Linked DNA regions of Homo sapiens: region 2 is linked to region 1. A link means that fine-mapping ties the variant in region 1 to the expression of a gene that starts in the linked region. Tissue or cell type: fibroblasts. Region 1 holds a variant in brackets; the other region holds the start of a gene. All regions are shown on one strand. Distances are from middle to middle.

What was found. PIP is the estimated chance that this variant, and not a neighbour inherited with it, causes the effect.
Region 2: HDAC9 starts here. The variant in region 1 is fine-mapped to the expression of HDAC9 in fibroblasts (GTEx, PIP above 0.99).

Annotation. Positions count from the first base shown.
Region 1 is chr7:18,990,053-18,992,740 of GRCh38, reverse strand. All of the region lies in intron 25 of HDAC9 (histone deacetylase 9), which reads right to left. Among named protein-coding and RNA genes, the nearest start is that of HDAC9-AS1, 89 kb to the right of the region's middle. RefSeq lists an enhancer at 2,258-2,688. The variant A/G (reference allele first, on the strand shown) is at 1,216.
Region 2 is chr7:18,494,562-18,497,249 of GRCh38, reverse strand. It overlaps HDAC9 (histone deacetylase 9), which reads right to left and starts at 1,501. Exons shown (of 26, transcript NM_178425.4): 1 at 1,227-1,501; 2 at 926-988. The coding sequence starts at 947. RefSeq lists an enhancer at 1,723-1,772.

The DNA of each region.
Region 1 (2,688 bases):
AGCCATAAGATAATTTACAAAAGTAAAAAAAAAAGGAAGTAATTTCACTTGAGACAAGATGTAGTATTAAATTAAATTCTTGTATTCTCTCTTAAATCTTATTTCTTGTGGTTTTAAAAATAGCATTTGTTTAATTTATATTAACACTGTTACGTAGTAAAACATTTTCTCATTTTACTGATTTAATTTAATTCTTATTTCTTACTTCTACTCCTCTTCCTCCTGAAAGGCAAGCAATACAATGCCTGTTACATTATTTTGTTTGCAAGTGTTCTTTAAAGCTGTGTATTATTGTTTTGTGGGTATATATTTTTATTTTATGTAAATTTTAACTTTATACACATGTGCATAATTTTCTCACTCAGTACTGTATTTACTAGATCTGTCATGCACTTATATTTATCTAGTTTGAAGCTGGTAACTTCTACGTGGCATCTCCATACAGTGCATCCACCACATTTTAACTATTCATTCTCCCAATAATGGACACTGGGCTTGACTCCAACTCTCTATTCACCATGAATAAAGCTGTAGTGAACTTCCTAGTATACGTACTCTAAAGACTTATGCTGAGAATGTCTTTGGTATACATTCCCAAGAGCAAAATTACCAGGTCATATATTTTGTGTATATAAAATGGTACTAAATTAGTATGCAGCATGGCTGCCATAGTTTATCTTCCCAAAGCAGTGAGGCTCTAAAGCCCCACATCTCCACCCATGCTAGCAATACTTAGTTTACTCATATTTTTCATTGATTCTAGAAAAAGTTGCTGACTGTGTACTGTGTGCCCTGGTTCTGTTCTAGGCACTAGGAACATAGCAATGAACAAAATAGACAAACATCCCTGCTCTCATAGAACTCACATTCTCCATTGACCTTATATTCTAATTGAATGTTTACCATCTAATATATGTAAAACAATACCTTCTTGTTATTCAAATTTGCATTTATTTGATAACTAATCAGTTTGGACAAAGATTTGAATTTTAGTAAGCCACAAAAGCTAAAGTAAAAGACAGAGAATCAAATGACTTTCATAAGTATGTGTCATAAGTAAGTCTGTTTATCTCACTGATGACTTCTTTTTTTTTTTTTTCTTTTGAGACGGAGTCTCTCACTGTCACCCAGGCTGGAGTGCAATGGCACCATCTCCGCTCACTGCAAGCTCCGCCTCCTGAGTTAACACCATTCTCCTGCTTCAGCCTCCTGAGC[A/G]GCTGGGACTACAGGTGCCTGCCACCACACCTGGCTAATTTTTTGTATTTTTAGTAGAGACAGGGTTTCACCGTGTTAGCCAGGATGGTCTTGATCTGACCTCGTGATCTGCCCGCCTCGGCCTCCCAAAGCACTGGGATTACAGGCATGAGCCACTGTGCCCAGCCTGATGACTTCTTTATCTTTCCAGTATTCACAAACTGATTTTATATATAACTAATTCATATATTAGTTCGTATTTTGTGAATTTTGTTTTATGTTCTTTCATTTCCTCATTCATTTTTCTTTTTCATCTCCCCCCTCCAATGTTATACCATTTTGTATACATACTAGACATCCCATAAATACTTTTTGAAATGTTTATATACATATGTTGGAATGATTTCAGTGCTCTTTACAAGTATGATAATTTAAATCAAGAACAAAATAAGAATTTGCAACAAAAGAATAAAGATCGAGAGGAGCCAAGATGGCCGAATAGGAACAGCTCCGGTCTACAGCTCCCAGCATGGGCAACGCAGAAGACGGGTGATTTCTGCATTTCCATCTGAGGTACCGGGTTCATCTCACTAGGGAGTGCCAGACAGTGGGCGCAGGTCAGTGGGTGCGCGCTCCATGCGCGAGCCCAAGCAGGGCGAGACATTGCCTCACTTGGGAAGCACAAGGGGCCAGGGAGTTCTCTTTCCTAGTCAAAGGGGTGACAGACGGCACCTGGAAAATCAGGTCACTCCCACCCAAATACTGCGCTTTTCCTACGGGCTTAAAAAACGGCGCACCAGGAGATTATATCCCGCACATGGCTCGGAGGGTCCTACGCCCACAGAATCTCGCTGACTGCTAGCTCAGCAGTCTGAGATCAAACTGCAAGGCGGCAGCCAGGCTGGGGGAGGGGCGCCCGCCATTGCCCAGCCTTGCTTAGGTAAACAAAGCAGCCTGGAAGCTCAAACTGGGTGGAGCCCACCACAGCTCAAGGAGGCCTGCCTGCCTCTATAGGCTCCACCTCTGGGGGCAGGGCACAGACAAACAAAAAGACAGCAGTAACCTCTGCAGACTTAAATGTCCCTGTCTGACAGCATTGAAGAGAGCAGTGGCTCTCCCAGCACGCAGCTGGAGATCTGAAAACGGGCAGACTGCCTCCTCAAGTGGGTCCCTGACCCCTGACCCACGAGCAGCCTAACTGGGAGGCACCCCTCAGCAGGGGCACACTGACACCTCACATGGCCAGGTACTCCAACAGACCTGCAGCTGAGGGTCCTGTCTGTCTGTCCTAACAAACAGAAAGGACATCCACACCAGAAACCCATCTGTACATCACCATCATCAAAGACCAAAAGTAGATAAAACCACAAAGATGGGGAAAAAACAGAGCAGAAAAACTGGAAACTCTAAAACGCAGAGTGCCTCTCCTCCTCCAAAGGAACTCAGTTCCTCACCAGCAATGGAACAAAGCTGGACGGAGAATGACTTTGATGA
Region 2 (2,688 bases), 500 kb after region 1:
AAGTGAGAACTTTAAGCCAATTTTAGGTTGAAACATTCAGAAGAGGACAGAAACAAAGAGTTCCCAAAGCTTTAGGAAATAGCCATAGGAAATAAATATGAAAGGCAATAATTACACGTTAAGTGATACTGCCTGGAGAGTATGTTCATTTAGTAAGTATAAATTGACAAGGCTGACAAGCTCAATCTCCCACCAGCTCATCTCCTTGAGAAACTAGAAATTAGAATCTGTTCCTATTATCCTTTAAAACGCTGCACCTGCTTTTAACACATTTACATGTGTGTTATGCCATCACATCTGCCTGACAATGCTAGACTTCCCACATGTTTTTGAAGAAAATTAAAATAAGCATCTGCTAATAACAATTTTATTTCATCCTAAACAGTTTCATTTGGGGCTGATGAGAAAAAGCCACATAATGGAAAAAAGAAAACTACCTTTATAACTCTGTGGCAAACACATTTTAGAAGGTAGGTCTATAAATAGATGTGCTTCTGTAGGCACAGAGTAAATATAAAATCGTCAGGCTAGCGGGGCTGCAGTTTAAACTGAAGCCCCAATATGAACTTACCTGATTTTTAAAGTCCTATTAGAATAGGCTTACAATCAGTACACAGCTCCTTTTTCTAGTTGCATAGTAAAGGCAAAACACCCCCAACTACATTTTACTTATCTCAGTCTCATCTTTCATCAGAAGCAATAGTTTGCAATTTCATTCAGAAGCTGCTGTCCCTAAGCAGACTGAATATGCACAGAAACAGTAATGGAAGGGATCTAAGTTAAACCCTACAGACGCACCAAGAAAATAGCAACATCAACACGAAAAAGCAGCAATTTCCTTAAGAGAGGTGCTTTTCTTAGCTGCATTTCCCAAGCCAGCCCCCTTTCAAACCTAAAACGTCTCAGTTATGAAAGAGGATCTTACCTGAGCTGATCATACTGTGCATTCTTTGCTGAGCCAAGAGCTGCTCTCGTCCAGCCACCCCATCTGAGGAAAAACAGGAGTCACTCTCGTAAATTGTCTGCAGCATATTCCAGTCACTCTTACTTCAGCTACATGAAACATTCATCACTGCTCAGTGCACCGGCCCCAGGAGCTACCCTCGCTGGTTCTCCCTCCTCCCTGAGGAGAAGCAGCAGAGGATCAACTTCGACAATGATTTCCTTTCTGCTCAAATGGGCATCCACTTTTAAAAAGACCTGGACACTTTTCCCATGTTACCAACCTGTGTGCAAAGCAGAAAGGACAGAGTGGATGCTATAGCTCTCTGGAGTTTAGGTTATCCCGGAAACTACAAGCAGGTGGGAAATAGGAACGTGCTTCGGGGTTATTTCTTTGTCAGAATACGTAGAAAATTATTAAGTCTACCCACGAGAAAAAGAAACCAATTAAACCTGGCTTAGAGTTCTTCAGGCTGCTAGGGTTTTGTTGCAAAAACCCTCAGTCCTGCAAGTGGCTCCAGCCGGTGCCCTTCTCCTATCTGTGTCTGTGCCTCTCTTCCCCCTTTCTCAGTCTCTCTCAGCTCAAGTTGGCTAAAGCGAGTGATAATCCATTTGCATATGAATCAACAACAGCATGGCCCACAGGCACAGAAATAGAACAATGGTCGGCCTGAGCCAAAAATAGGTCAAGCATGGCCGAGTGATTGGAGCCTGCATTAATGCATTTAAAAATACCCCAGCAAACCCAGCTGTCCAGCCTCTATCTTTCCAACCATAATTCTCTATCGCAGGGCCTTAAAACCAATTAACTCTTTCCTCTCTCGAAGCTTGCTTTACACACTGTGTTTCCATACTGGCGATTCGCTTCCAAAGAAAGGAAGGCAAGAAAAAAAATTAAGAATCATAATTCTAAGAGGGCAAATGCACATACATTTCATTTCATTTTATTTTTGTAGTATGTGTTTTTGGAAGAGAGAGGAGAGAAGTACAGAGCTCTGTATTGGTTCTAAAATAATACTGGAAGCTTTTGCTCATAATGTGGTTTCTGCCTCACCCACGCACAGCAATCCTGGTGTTCTATTTTTGTTGCCTGTTTCTCAGGCTACACTGCAGTTGGCTGTAGCACTAGAAGCTTTTCTGCCTTCTAGTTTCAGGACTAACAGGAGATTTAGCAGAGGTACTTTTGGAAAACAAGCACACCCCAGAATAAAATTTTTATGAAGGACAGGCTTGATTTTTTACTTGCTATTTATGCAAGACAATTGTCCATTTCACAAATCCTATTGTATCTTAGTACCACCTATGAATTTTATCGCATCCATCCAGTTAGTACTATATCTATAAACAAAACAAAACACAAAACACAAAACCGTGGCTTATATGTGAAAATTTCCCCTCAGCCTCTCAGGCTAAATTCAATTTACTTGCAAAAGGAAAAGAAAGTAGTCTGATTTCTTATGGATACAGAATTTCTGAGCATATGCACCTGTTGATGGATAAATCATATATATGGTTAGTACCCAACTATGACTGTTCTGCATTCAGCTATACATTGGTTGCCCGAAATATGGACCTCCTAACTTTTCTGTAGAAATAGCATTTATGATAGTCAATAGATTACCAGACACATTGTGGCGTTCAGCTATACAGTACAGTAGATAGTATCAGAGTTTTATAGTCTCTGGTGCTACATTTATATCCTTTCTATATAAGAGATAAATTTTACATTCCAAAGAGGGATCCTAG